Homo sapiens: one gene and its partner. The protein of the gene in region 1 interacts with the protein of each later gene in a biochemical or structural test. Each region holds a gene or a part of one and is shown on either strand. Other genes may lie near its edges. The genes, in order: ADAR and TRIM47.

Region 1 (7,266 bases):
AAGGCCGACCTTGACCTAATGACCTCTCCAGGTCAAGTCCCCTTGAGCTAATAGGAAGTAAATGAGGGAATGGAGTTGGGCGCTTTAAAAATCAGACAGTGTATGAAGTAACAGTGACTTGTGGGGAGAAAGGTAGTCCCTTCTGATTTCTGCTTAAGAAGAGAGTCCAAGTTGGTGCTAGCATTTCGTTAAGCCTTCCTCATACTTCATAATCTTCCTTTATAGTAAGGACAGGCTCAGAGCCTTTGCAGGTAACAGTATCTAGTCAGAATTTTATAACATGATTTTATCATATTCTGTTTTACAGCCACCTTCAATATGTGGCAAGTGATACTGGTTTTCCATTTACAGTAGTGAAACAAAGTTTCCTATTTCAGTGTGTTTACATTTTTATCTCTTTTTTCATACCTAGTATTACGGATATTTACATTTTTAGAGTCTGTTTGTTTATTTTAGAGATGGGGATCTTGCTGTCTCGCGCAGGCTGGAGTGCAGTGATATGGTCATAGCTCACTGCAGCCTTGACCTCCAGGGCTCAAGTGATCCTCTCACCCCAGCCTCCCAAGTAGCTGAGACTATAGGCACAGACCACCGTGCCCAGCTAAATTTTTTTTTTTTTTTTTAAGAGACAGGGGTCTCGCTATGTTGCCTGGGGGATTACTATGTTGCCCAGGCTGGTCTTGAACTCCTGGCCTCAAGTGATCTCCCACCTTAGCTCCTCAAGTTGCTGGGATTACAGGTGTGAGCCACAATGGCTGGCTCTAAGAAGTCAATTTAGAGAAAAATATTAATTAATAGTCCAAGTAATACCTGGATGTGGCACAAATCATGTGGTGATTCATGAATGACCAAAATCTAGGAAATGCTGCCTTAGAAACAGCTTCTGTTTGACGGGTCCATATGTTTGCAAGACTGGCCACATCTTCAGCAAAACTAACCCTTCCTTGGAACAATGTCAGGGTCTGGCACTTGTCTTCATTCTCTGTTTCTCATCCCAAAGGTTCGTTTACCAAGCAAAAGTTGGGGGTCGCTGGTTCCCAGCCGTCTGCGCACACAGCAAGAAGCAAGGCAAGCAGGAAGCAGCAGATGCGGCTCTCCGTGTCTTGATTGGGGAGAACGAGAAGGCAGAACGCATGGGTTTCACAGAGGTAACCCCAGTGACAGGGGCCAGTCTCAGAAGAACTATGCTCCTCCTCTCAAGGTCCCCAGAAGCACAGCCAAAGACAGTTAAGACGTCTACTTTTGGTGCCTTTTTTGGGGCGGGGGGGTCCTCCTAACTCCTAAGTGGAGGTGGCTCTTGCTGTCATGCGAGTTATTCCTAGGCTTTACTCTTAGCCTCGAGAGAGCAGTAACTGGGACACTAGATGTAAGAAGGAAAAGATGACTCACACGACAAGTAGAGCTTGATCTCCCTGCCCACGGTGAATATGGTGGACACAGCCTCAGCTTTGTGGTGCTGACACAGCCTCTTTTCCCCACAGCTCCCTCTCACTGGCAGCACCTTCCATGACCAGATAGCCATGCTGAGCCACCGGTGCTTCAACACTCTGACTAACAGCTTCCAGCCCTCCTTGCTCGGCCGCAAGATTCTGGCCGCCATCATTATGAAAAAAGACTCTGAGGACATGGGTGTCGTCGTCAGCTTGGGAACAGGTGAGTGAGGCTCTGAGACATGCCGCCTCCCATGGCGCCTGAAAGCGGGTGCCTCTCATCCTCCCCTGGAGTCCATGCATGTAAGTCCAAGGCAGGGAGAAGAGACTTCATTTTAGCTACAGTCAATTCAGAGTGAGGAATGAGTTCTTAGTTCCTAGAGGAGAGAATATGGGAGTCTAGGATCTGAGAAACTGAGGCTGTTTCTGCCTTGAAGCTTTCAGAACAAATAGCCTTCATCCTGTTTTCCATCGGTTTCCTTCCATTATTCTATTTCTGTTTTAAACACCTTCCTAGGGAATCGCTGTGTGAAAGGAGATTCTCTCAGCCTAAAAGGAGAAACTGTCAATGACTGCCATGCAGAAATAATCTCCCGGAGAGGCTTCATCAGGTGAGCGAGGTCAGAGCTGTGGCCCGGCTGCCCGGCTGTGGAGAGCTCCAGTTCCCTGCCCCACATGGCTCTGACACGGCCTCTGAATCCCCCTCAGACAGACGGGTCATGATGTGGCAGTGGCAGCCTTTGCTTTTCACCCGTCCATTTGAACCTGTCTGATGGAATCCATCCCCTCTGTGAGCTGAGCTGCCTCCCACTGCTCGGCCTGTTTTTAAATGCTGTCCTTTTTTCTGCTAACTCTGCTGCTTCATGTTCTTTTCTAAAAACACAAAATGACCTTTTAGTCCTCAGGGCCTTGAGGATGAGGCAGCTTTCCATTTCCGTTTGAGGACCTACACAACCTTGATGCCCCTGCCAGCTTTCTCCTCTAGCTCACCTTTTCTTTAATTTATGAAGGGAGAGACTTAGAAAGGAGCAACAGCTTCCTGTAGTCCTTGAATCAGTTTGCTCTGCTCTAGAATCCCTGTAGCCGCCATAGCGAGGAGCCCTCAGCAGAAATGAAGGAGACCCAAAAGGCTAACTATGCTTTATGAAATGCTGAGGTCTCCCCTGGAGAATTTCCACCTGATAAACTGTGAAACGTCTGCAACATTGAGACTTTTCCTTACTTTCTCATTTGGAGGTCAGATTATAGAAACAACTGCTTTTCCCAGAATTGAACCTGCCTTCCTAACCAGACTTTCTTTTTGTAGGTTTCTCTACAGTGAGTTAATGAAATACAACTCCCAGACTGCGAAGGATAGTATATTTGAACCTGCTAAGGGAGGAGAAAAGCTCCAAATAAAAAAGACTGTGTCATTCCATCTGTATATCAGGTCTGTACAGTTCCTGTTGCTGCCAGGGTGGGCCCTGCCAGGCTGTTAGAATTGGGTATCCAAATGCTCTCCTGGCCTGTAAATCGAACCTGATACAATAAGCCACACTCCACTGTGGGTTTGAGGTCCATATTCAGGTGTAGATGACTCACATGTACTGCTGTCCACCTCCAGTCTCCCATGGTAGGCCTTAGAAAACATCCCTTGCTTCTGTCACATCTGACTGTTTTGGAGCCCCACGAAATTGCAGATTTCCCACAGGTGAGTTTTAACAGCCACCCCTGTTTTTCAGCACTGCTCCGTGTGGAGATGGCGCCCTCTTTGACAAGTCCTGCAGCGACCGTGCTATGGAAAGCACAGAATCCCGCCACTACCCTGTCTTCGAGAATCCCAAACAAGGAAAGCTCCGCACCAAGGTGGAGAACGGTGAGTGATACATGCCCCCGCCTCCTTTCCTCAAAAGGCTCTGCAAGGTCCAGGGACCCCAAGTCTCTACAAGGCTGCTAGGATTTTACCATTAGTCACTGGGCACAGAGGTGCTGTTTACAGGAAAGGGAAGACCTGGGTCAGGGAGCTGTGTGGTAAGATCAGGGTTCTATTTTGAATGTGTTAGTTTGGGAGATCTGGGAGATCCCCAAGTCAAATAGGAGGTGGGGGTTCCCATGTGGAGCTCAGAGGAGGGAGCTTGGCTGGAAATAGAAATATGGGAGTCATCCCCCTATAGGGTCTTCATGGCCATGAGAATGCATAGGATTACCTCAAGAAAGCGGGGAGGAAATGAAGAGTGCGGCACAACCAAGCCCTGAGGAGTTGACAGATGAGGATGCCAAATGCTGGGGTCCCCTCCTGTCTAGCTGGCAGTTGACTCTGCCTTGTCCACTGGCTCCTTCTCTCCTATCCTCTCCTGTCTCCTTACTGTCTCTTCGCATCCACTCCATTGCGTTCAGGCCACGTCAGCAGTCATCATGGTGGTCCTGAAACCTTGCTAAATACCCTAAAGTATAGACACAGTTACCATGGAGCCGGTGCTCCACTCCTAGGTATATGCTGCAGAGAGATGGAGATCTGTGTCCACACGGAAACTAATATGTGAATGTTCATGGCAGCATTACTCACAAGAGCCAAAAAAGTGGAAACAACCCAGACGTCCATCAGCTGATGGATTCATAAATAAAACATCAAATATATCCATAAATTGAATATTATTTTGGCCATAAAAAGAAGTGAAGTGCTGATACATGCTTACAATATGGATGCACTTGAAAACTTGATGCCAAATGAAAAAAGCCAGTCACAAAAGATCACATATTGTATGATTCCATTTATATGAAATGTCCAGAATAGACAAATCCATAGAGACAGAAAGTAGATGAGTGGTTGCCAGGGCCAGGAGTGGGAGAGTTGGAGAGATGAGGAGTGACTGCGCCAATGGGTAGAAGGTTTCTTTTTGGAGCGATGAAATGTTCTAAAATTGACTGTGGTGACAGTTGCAGAACTCTGTGAATATACTAAAAATGACTGAATTGTATGCTTTAAATGGGTGAACTGTATGGCATATGAACTATATCTCAGTAAAGCATTTTTTTTTGTTTTTTTTTAAACCCGATAGTGGTTTCCCACTGCACTGCATATACAAGCAAAACCTGCTGTGATCACCCGGCCTCCTCTCATGCCACTTTCCCCATCCCTCGCATATGCTCTGTCCACACTGGCTCTCTGTCAGGCGCCTGAACAGCCAATCCGCTGGCTGCCTTGGGGCCTTTGCTTTTGTCCTGTGTGCCTGAAACACTTACTCCAGCTGTCCTCCTCCATGTCTGGGCTCCCCTGCTGCTGCTGTCCCAGGAGGTGTCCCCTGTGGTCCTCCGTCATAGCTGCCTCAGAGCCTTCAGAGCACTGTCAGCATCTGGAATTCTTCCGTATGTACTGGCTACTGGTTTAGTGTCTATTCTCTTCCCTTTCAATCTCCTCACCACCATAGATGTTTTAAGAGCACAAAGATCTTACTTGGTTTTGCTCACCGTTCTTTCCCAGCACCAAGCATAGTGCCTGGCGCATAGCAGGGGCTGTGAAATATGTGAAGAATGAATGAATGTAGCCTGTGGCCCAAGCTTAAGGAGGATAGAAACCACGCCAGGGAGTGGTTTGGTCCATTGGCGCCTGTGGGTCTGACCCAAGTCTCTCACACAGGAGAAGGCACAATCCCTGTGGAATCCAGTGACATTGTGCCTACGTGGGATGGCATTCGGCTCGGGGAGAGACTCCGTACCATGTCCTGTAGTGACAAAATCCTACGCTGGAACGTGCTGGGCCTGCAAGGGGCACTGTTGACCCACTTCCTGCAGCCCATTTATCTCAAATCTGTCACATTGGGTAAGGGGCCTGCCTTGGGATCTGGAACTGGTCTGTCCTTCTTGTGCCCAGATCCCAAACTGCATGCTTTATTGCCAGGTGTTTTGTCTCCCTTATCAAAGTGAGCATGATTCACTCCTCAGTAATTGATTGAGTGTCCAGTCTGCTGTGGTAGGAAGATCCTGGTAGCCCCAGTCAGAAGGTGCTTCCTAACAAGGCAGCTGTTTCTCTTTCTTGACAACTATATCTTGTACCTCCAAAATCCCCACATGCTTCTGCCTCTTAACAGCATTTGGTGCAAACACAGGTATATATGTTTCTCTTTTTTGTACTCAGGTTACCTTTTCAGCCAAGGGCATCTGACCCGTGCTATTTGCTGTCGTGTGACAAGAGATGGGAGTGCATTTGAGGATGGACTACGACATCCCTTTATTGTCAACCACCCCAAGGTGCTATAACCCCCTTCTATTTTCCCTGACATTTTCCTCCTTTTCAAGCAGTCATGTAAACAGAGGAAAAATGTACACTGTGGGCAAGGGGAACATTGCCCACAGTGGTAGCCCACAAGGGAACATTGCCCACAGTGGCCCACCACCAACATTGGTTGGTCTCCCAAGAACTTAAACTTTCTTCCTTTTGGATGCCAAGGGCTTTTCTTCTCTTAGTCTGGAATTAATCTGAATCGAGGTGGAGTTAGTATGTCTAGAGGGTGCTCAGTCTTAGCCAAACAGAACCCTAAATACAGGGGAAAGATCATGACCCCACACTTCCTCTCTCCTATGAGTCTTGAGTCCCTGCTTCAGAATCTTATTCCTGAAAGGTTTCCATCTTTCTCCCGTTGCTTCTGGGATTCCTAGGTTGGCAGAGTCAGCATATATGATTCCAAAAGGCAATCCGGGAAGACTAAGGAGACAAGCGTCAACTGGTGTCTGGCTGATGGCTATGACCTGGAGATCCTGGACGGTACCAGAGGCACTGTGGATGGGTAAGGAGACAGGAGAGCGCAGTGAGGACCAAGCCTCTGCCCTGACTTGCAAGGGTGCATCATACCTCTGCAGTCTCAGGGCTTGAGAGCCGCCTCCCCTCCCACGGTGTCTCCACTGTGAGCTCCTTATCTTACAGGTCCCAGGTGAATAATGAGTGCTTTTGTTTCTCTAGGCCACGGAATGAATTGTCCCGGGTCTCCAAAAAGAACATTTTTCTTCTATTTAAGAAGCTCTGCTCCTTCCGTTACCGCAGGGATCTACTGAGACTCTCCTATGGTGAGGCCAAGAAAGCTGCCCGTGACTACGAGACGGCCAAGAACTACTTCAAAAAAGGCCTGAAGGATATGGGCTATGGGAACTGGATTAGCAAACCCCAGGAGGAAAAGAACTTTTATCTCTGCCCAGTATAGTATGCTCCAGTGACAGATGGATTAGGGTGTGTCATACTAGGGTGTGAGAGAGGTAGGTCGTAGCATTCCTCATCACATGGTCAGGGGATTTTTTTTTCTCCTTTTTTTTTCTTTTTAAGCCATAATTGGTGATACTGAAAACTTTGGGTTCCCATTTATCCTGCTTTCTTTGGGATTGCTAGGCAAGGTCTGGCCAGGCCCCCCTTTTTTCCCCCAAGTGAAGAGGCAGAAACCTAAGAAGTTATCTTTTCTTTCTACCCAAAGCATACATAGTCACTGAGCACCTGCGGTCCATTTCCTCTTAAAAGTTTTGTTTTGATTTGTTTCCATTTCCTTTCCCTTTGTGTTTGCTACACTGACCTCTTGCGGTCTTGATTAGGTTTCAGTCAACTCTGGATCATGTCAGGGACTGATAATTTCATTTGTGGATTACGCAGACCCCTCTACTTCCCCTCTTTCCCTTCTGAGATTCTTTCCTTGTGATCTGAATGTCTCCTTTTCCCCCTCAGAGGGCAAAGAGGTGAACATAAAGGATTTGGTGAAACATTTGTAAGGGTAGGAGTTGAAAACTGCAGTTCCCAGTGCCACGGAAGTGTGATTGGAGCCTGCAGATAATGCCCAGCCATCCTCCCATCCTGCACTTTAGCCAGCTGCAGGGCGGG
Region 2 (7,483 bases), on another chromosome or scaffold:
GGGCCCAGTGTGAGTGGAGGGGGCACGGGCGTCCACTTACACTTGAGGAAATAGTCCCTGGGAGCTTCACTCTCCAAGAGGTTCGTACTCTCGAGGTCTTGGGGCTCAGCATCAGCTGTAGAAGAGGAGACAGTGGTGAGAACGCCCCCAGACTGCCCCCCTCTGAACCTGTGACTACAATCCCTACCCCCTTCACTTCCTCCCAGAGTCCAGAGCCACCAGGGAGCAAGCACCACCCAGATGTGGCACGCTGTGCTCACACACATGCCCGTTGCCTGTGTTCTGCCTCTTGCCCCATGTGCTTCCCGGGCCACAGCCCTCTGGAGCTAGAGGGTGGGCTAGGAGAAGCCCCCTCTACCCCAGGTCCAAGGGGCTGATTGATCCCCACAGGGTGGCAGCTCTAGTCACTGGCAGGATTTGGGCTCCTCCCTGTGCCAGGCACAATTTTCCTCCTCCACTTCTGGATGGGCGCCAGGCCTGGGGGCCTGTGCGAGAGGCTGGCAGAGGGTGAGTCATCGGGGGGGCGTGGGGCGGTGCCCACCTTCCGAGTCCAGCTTCTGTGGCCCATCCTCGTTGCCACCCGGCCCCCTCAGCTGCTCCCACTGGTTGACGCAGGCCACGGCCAGCATGTCTCTCACTGCACGGACAGCTTGGGATGATTTGGTGAAGCTGAGCTCCCTCGGGGGTCCAGGCCCAGGGCCACACCCATCCTCCAGGGCCAGCCTTAGTGCCAGCAGCTCCTGTGCCAGACAAATGCCCATTAAAGTGCTGCTGGCCATGGCTCCTCCTTGCTGGGGGTGGAGGCAGCTCTGCCAGGAAGTCATGCACCCACTGCCTCCTCCTCCCTCCACCCCACCTGTCCCAGCTTCTGTTCCTTCCGTGGCCCCCAGAGCGGCCTTCACCTGCAGGAAGCTGACTGAGTCAGCTTCAGGGACCTGGCTGAGATTCTGGCGGGCTCGGCTCAGGCGGCTGCGCTGTTCCTCCTGTCGCCGCAGGTCACCCTGGGAGCGGCCTAGCATGGCAGCTTCCCCCTCCTCGATGAAGCCCAGCACCTGGGTCTGGAAGCCCTGCAGGGCGGCCGCAGCATCTGCAAACAGCCGGCTCACCCTCTCCCGCTCTGCTACGGCTGCACTCTGCACAGGACGACAGTAGAGGGGGCAATGAGGGCAAAGAACCGTCCCGGACTGTACCCCCCTCCTTCCCTGACCCCGGCTTCCCACCGGCCCTCTTGAGGGGACAGAGGGGCCAGACTGAGCCTGTCCTGGATCTGGGCCAGGTCAGGGGACACTTGTGCTCAGTAGGTATGGGCATGGTTTGTTTGGAGTGGATTGTTCCATGCTGAGGGAGGGGTGTTTGACCTTGATGAGGGCCACTGTGCGCCTGGACTGTGCAATGCCAGCACCCAGCTCGTCCATGCGGTCCTCCACGGCGCTCAGGACTTTGGACTGCTCAGCCTGTGGACAACACCCTCCATGAGTGTGAGGTCTGGCAGAGGCCACAGCCCTACACTCGGGTCCCAGGCCTTGCCAGGGGAGAGAAGGGGGTGACTGGGGAGTGGTATCTGTGCATCAGGTGGGACTGGAGTGGCCACGATGTCCCATAATATGCCAGAGGTGCCTGCAGCCCAGGCTGGTGCCTTTCCTGAACGCCTGGGGGGCGTGCAGGCTGACTGGGTGTCTGCCTCGGGTCTCTGACAGGAGGCCTAGTACAGGGCCGTCCGCTGGTCTCAGTGTTGCTCAGATGAATTTGAGAACTTCCTCCGGCGGGGAAGAGGCAGAGAGTAAGCCAGTTAGGTTGGGAGGTGGGCGGCGGAGGGGTGACTGCACAAGGAGGCATTAAGCTGTCCTGAGGATCACTGTTCCCAAAGAGCCTGCATCCACAGTCCAGGCCTGGAAAAAAGGGGATTCCGGGCAAATCCCCTAGGTCTTATGAGTCACTGCTCCAGGCAGGAGAAACGGAAAATCCCTTGGCCAGAGGCGCCAAGACCGGGCTGGAGGCCAAAGGAAACTGGGGGCGGGAGGTAGAGGCCGCGGCTCACATGCTCCCACCACTGGCCCCCGGAACAGCTGGACAGAGAATCTGTGTGCCCGGTCGCCCTCTGCCGCCCTCCTGCCGCCTGCCACACCCATCGAAAGCTGCTGCCTCAGCCCAGGGCAAATCTGAGCTGAGACCGGCGTGACCCTCCGGGCGGGAGCAGCAGCCACGCTACCGGAACCCCGCGGGCCTAACCCGGCTCCCTCCCGCCTACACCCCCATAGACCCCGGCCCGGCTTCAGGTCCCCTGCCCGCTCTTCGCGTCCTTGTCCTGTTCTCACGTCCCTCCTTCCTCCCTTCCCATCTCCATCACCGCCAGCAGATGACCTTGTCAAGGCTGGAAGGGACCGCAAAGATCCTCAGGTTAGAGGAGGAGATTAAGACCCAACCCGGGAAGACTGGGGGGTCCAAGGTCCTCGGCCCGCTCGCGCGCGGTCGGTCACCAGCCCCGGCTCACCCGAGTGTGCCCCCGGAGCCCACCTCCTGAAGCGCGCGCTCCTGCTCCAGCGGCACCAGCTCGTGGCCGCGGTGCTCCTGTGCGGCGCAGGCCTCGCACAGACACACGCGCTCCGCGCGGCAGTAGCGCTCGAGCGGCCGTAGGTGGCGCGGGCACAGGCTCTCCTCTAGCCGGCGCAGCGGCGGCACCAGGCGGTGTCCGCGGAGGGCGGGGCTGCGCTCGTGCGGGCCCAGGTGCGCGGGGCAAAAGGAGGCGAGGCAGGAGAGGCAGGACAGCGCGGCGGGCAGGGCCGCGCCCTCGGGGCACGCGTCGCAGCGCACTGGCTCTTCGCCCGCGGGCCACGGCTCGGGAGCGCAGGGGGCCGACGGCTCCGGGACACTGGGCAGCGCGCTGGGTGCCGAGGGCTCCGGGGCCAGGGCAGGGGCCGGGCCGGGGCCGGACCCGGGGCCCGAGCCCTGGCGGAGCTGCAGCAGCTCGGACAGCGTGTGGTTCTTGCGGAGCTGAAGGCCGTCGGGGAAGGGCTCCTGGCACAGCGGGCAGCGGGCCGCGCCTCCGGGTCCGCCGGCTCCACTCGCGCCACGATGCGGCCAGAGCGCGCCCAGGCAGGCGAGACAGAAGTTGTGGCCGCAGGGCAGCGTCACCGGCTCCCGGAGTGGCTCTAGGCAGATGGGGCAGCTGAAGGGTCCACTGCCGTCCATGACTCCGCGGCCGCCCAGGGCGCCGCCGATTGTGCTCCGGCCTGGGAGGGACCCGGGCCGTTCGCGCCGCGGCACCTCCCCCTGGGACCTAGGCCAGGGCTCCGGCCCCCGCCCGCCCCCAGCTCGGCCCGCCCCGCAGCACCGCCCGCCTGCGGGCCCGCGGACTCCCAGTCCCCGCCCAGACAACGCAGGGAGGCCTCCGAGCCCGCGCGACCCCCAGGGGAGTCCGCGTGGTCCTAAGGAAGGGCGCTGCTGAAAGGGTGTGAAACTGAGTGAGCGCGGGCGGAGAACGCGAGAGGTACAGTGGAAGGAATGGGAAGGACTCAGCCTCCATCCCTCTGGTCCTTCTGGGCCAGGCCAGCGCTCCGCAGGGGCTGGGCGCGTCTAGCTGTGTCATGCCTGCACCTTTGCGCTCGACCCCTCCCTGGCACCCTTAGCAAAGTTCCTGAGCTGCTGACTGCAGAGAAAAATAACTGCTGATGTACATATGTTTTTGCCCCTTAGCGACTCTTTTTTTTTTTTTTTTTGAGACAGAGTTCCTCTCTTGTCGCCCAGGCTGGAGTGCAGGGGCGCTATCTCGGCTCACTGCAACCTCCGCCTCCCGGATTCAAGTGATTCTCCTGCCTTAGCCTCCCAAGTAGCTGGAATTATAGGCGCTTGCCACCACACCAGGCAAATTTTTGTATTTTTTTGTAGAGACGGAGTTTCACCTTGTCCAGGCTGGTCTTGAACTCGTGACCTCAGGTGATCCACCTGCCTCGGCCTCCCAAAGTGCTGGGATTACAGGCGTGAGCCACAGCGCCCAGCTCCTTTAGCGACTCTTTACCCCAAGTAGGGAACTTGGACTTTTCTAGACCTGAAATGGGAAGTTGACGTCATTCCCTAAGTCCCTTGTCTGAGGAATGTAGTTCTGGCCCCTGGACACTGGGGACACCTGTGGTGGGGTTGGGGGTTCCCCAACTGGAAGTATTTAAAGCTCATCTAATTATGCACTTAAAGTGGTGCGTTTTATTGTATGAGTTATATCTCAATAATGTTAAGTTAAAACACTACACCAGAATGACAACAAAATAAGTAAAGTAGCACTGATTATAACCCAAAGTGTAAAATAAACATCTATGAGTCCATGCCGATATAAATAAATAATAAATTAACAAGCTGGGGAGAACAGACATATTTCGCATTGAAAATTCCAAATAATGTTTTTTTATTTTTATTTTTTTAGATGGAGTTTCGCTCTTGTCGCCCAGGCTGGAGTGCAGTGGCGCAATCTCAGCTCACTGCAACCTCTGTCTCCTGGGTTCAAGCGATTCTCCCTCCTCGGACTCTTGAGTAGCTGGGATTACAGGCGCCCGCCACCACATTTGGCTAATTTTTGTATTTTTAGTAGAGACGGGGTTTCACCATGTTGGCCAAGCTGGTCTCGAACTGCTGACTTCAGGTGATCCACCCGCCTCGGCCTCCCAAAGTGCTGGGATTACAGACATGAGCCACCGCACCCAGAGATATCTGTAATTTTGGTTAGTGACAAAGTCACAGGTAACTGCTCATACCACTCTGGTGTATTCTCTCCATTTGGAATAGAAAGAAATGCTGTGTTTCAGTAAGGTGCTGCAGCGTGGCTTCCTTCTGCAGGATCTGAGGGAGACTCTGTCCTGGGCGTCTGTCCCAGCTTCTGGTACTGGCTGGCAATTCTTGGCGTTCCTTGGCTTGTAGCTGTAAGATGCGCTCTAATATCAGTCTCTGTTGTCATTTGCCTTTTCTCTGTGTCTGTGTTCAAATGTCCTTTTTTTTTTTTTTTTTAGGGAGTCTTGCTCTGTTGCCCACTCAAACTGCTGGGCTCGAGTAATCTGCCTGCCTCAGCCTCCCAAAGTGCTAGGATTACAGGCGTGAGCCACTGTGCCCGGTGCCCATTTCCTCTTATCAGGACACCAGTTGTTGGATTAGGGCACGCTCTACTCCAGTATGCCCTCATCTTAACTCAGTCACATCTGAAAATACTCTATTTCCAAATAAGGTCACAGCCACAGGTCCTGGGGGTTAGGATCCGAATACGTCTTTTTCAGGGAACAGGATTCAACCTATAACAGTGCATAAGTAAGGAAATGTTGGAGAGAGGCCCAGGCCCAAATGTGCTAGAGGTCATGCATGTCCCCCGGTGTTCCTGGCCCTCTCTGTGTTCCAGGACCCTGGCCCTTCCCTAAACCTCAGCACACACTGCTGCTTGTCCCACACCCAAACCCTTGTCCACCTCTCCCACCGGGTCTGCATTCCTGCCTCTGTTTCCCCAGCTCTCTAGGCTTGGGGGGTGGGAAAATACCCTCAGGTCCCCTGAGACCAGACTAGAAATGTTCAGAAGGCACTTCATGAGTTCAGAGCTAAAGAGGAGAAAACACAAGCAAAAGAGCACAAATGTGCCGGGTGTGGTGGCTCACGCCTGGAATCCCAGGACTTTGGGAGGCTGAGGCGGGCGGATCACTTGAGGTCACGAGTTCCAGACCAGCCTGGTTAACATGGCGAAACCCCATCTCTACTAAAAATACAAAAAAATTAGCCGGGCGTGGTGGTGCACACACTTGTATTCCCAGCTACTCGGGAGTCTGAGGCAGGAGAATCGCTTGAACCAAGGAGGCAGAGGTTGTGCCACTGTACTCTCCAGCCTCGGTGACACAGCGAGACTCCATCTCAAAAAAAAAAAAAAAAAAAAAAGAAAAGAAAAGAAGAAAGAAAGAAGGAGGGACCCAGCCTCTTGGGGAGGGAGCTGGCTCTCCAGGCACTCAGGAACCCCTGTCTTAGTGTGTCTGGGCTGCTATCCCAGAACACCAGAGACTGGGTGGCTTATACACAACAGACACTCCTCACAGTTCTGGAGGCTGGAAGTCTGCGATCACGGTGACAGCACAGTCAGGGTTCCAGTGAGAGCTGCTTCCTGGGTTGTAGATGGCTGCCTTCCCACTGTGTCCTCACATGGCCAAGAGACAGCCAGAGAGCCTTTGGGGCCCCTTGGACAAGGGCACTCATGCCATGAATGAGGCTCCGCCCACCTGAAGACCCCACCTCCTAGGACCATCACCTTAGGGGTCAGGATCTCAACACATCAATTCTGAGGGTACACACACATTCAGACTGTTGCAACTCCAAGTGCCAAAAGAGCGGTGCAATCTGCTCCTGGGGGCTCCATGGGAAAGGCTGGGGAACTGTGGAAGTGGCATTTGAGCTGGGCTTTCACAGACTGCCAGGACTCAGGCGGGCAGAGACTGGGGTGGGAAAAGACCTTCCGGGCAGAGGGAGTAGCAGAGGGAGCCGGCCTGGGTGTGTCTGATTTGGCAGGAGGGTGGGTAATGAGTTCCATACATTGGTTTCCACCAAGAGCACTAGAGCACTTGATCAGGACTATCACTTGTTTGCCAAGCCCCAGGAGCGGTTGGGAGGCCCAGGCATCAGTGCCACCCTGCTCCGTGGCTTTGGTGCCCAGGCTGCCTGGGTTTGGTGAGGCCACAAACCTGCCTGGTTCTGGAAGGAGGGGGTGCCTTTCCGGTTGGGTCCCAGCCAACCCTCTGCTCCCCACCCACAGCCTGCTGTCCTCCCTGCTTGAAAAGATCTGCTCCCCAGGAGGAAAGCACAGAGATGCGGTTTGTCAGTGTGGTGGCATCTTGCTACTTCTTTTCTTTTTTTTTCAAATGGAGTCTCGCTCTGTCGCCCAGGCTGGAGTTCAGTGGCGCAATCTCATCTCACTGCAACCTCCACCTTCTGGGTTCAAGCGATTCTCCTGCTTCAGCCTCCCCAGTAGCTGGGATTACAGGCATGCATCACCACGCTCGGCTAAATTTTGTATTTTTTAGTGGCGATGGGGTTTCACCATGTTGGCCAGGCTGGTCTCAAACCCCTGACCTCAGGTGATCTGCCTGCCTCGGCCTCCCAAAGTGCTGGGATTACAGACGTGAGCCACCGCGCCCAGCCTGGCATCTTGCTATTTCATTTCCATTTCCAGAGTTTTGAAGTTGTTTGCCTAGTGTATTAGTTCACTTCAAAATGAATTGTCTAAGAGTCAAGGGCAAGGGTAACTGGCACCATGTGAGCTCAGCATGTTCACACCTGCCCTCATTCTGTCTGTCCAAGGACCCTATCCTAAAGGATGGCAACTGGAATTCCGATAGGTACCATGTCTTGCCAGAGGTCACATAACTTGTCCTGCAGAGGAAGCAGAATTTAAGCTCAAGAGGTTGCAGCTTGAATAATTATAAATCTCACATATGACTGTCTGGCTGTAGTAGTAGTGCTTGAGAAAAAAAGG

The links.
Region 2: of the proteins of ADAR (region 1) and TRIM47, one has a biochemical effect on the other in vitro, tested with the Homo sapiens proteins (one study listed by BioGRID).

What each region holds. Positions count from the first base shown.
Region 1 is NC_000001.11:154,584,144-154,591,409, reverse strand, and holds part of ADAR (double-stranded RNA-specific adenosine deaminase), read left to right. Parts: intron 1-1,000; coding exon 1,001-1,226; intron 1,227-1,481; coding exon 1,482-1,653; intron 1,654-1,947; coding exon 1,948-2,041; intron 2,042-2,736; coding exon 2,737-2,859; intron 2,860-3,151; coding exon 3,152-3,285; intron 3,286-5,046; coding exon 5,047-5,229; intron 5,230-5,544; coding exon 5,545-5,657; intron 5,658-6,065; coding exon 6,066-6,193; intron 6,194-6,366; coding exon 6,367-6,604; 3' UTR 6,605-7,266. UniProt on the Homo sapiens protein: Catalyzes the hydrolytic deamination of adenosine to inosine in double-stranded RNA (dsRNA) referred to as A-to-I RNA editing.
Region 2 is NC_000017.11:75,875,360-75,882,842, forward strand, and holds the start of TRIM47 (E3 ubiquitin-protein ligase TRIM47), read right to left. Parts: upstream 3,223-7,483; 5' UTR 3,190-3,222; coding exon 2,515-3,189; exon of another isoform or gene 2,492-2,514; intron 2,466-2,491; exon of another isoform or gene 2,362-2,465; intron 1,455-2,361; coding exon 1,359-1,454; intron 1,134-1,358; coding exon 903-1,133; intron 741-902; coding exon 542-740; intron 116-541; coding exon 41-115; intron 1-40. UniProt on the Homo sapiens protein: E3 ubiquitin-protein ligase that mediates the ubiquitination and proteasomal degradation of CYLD.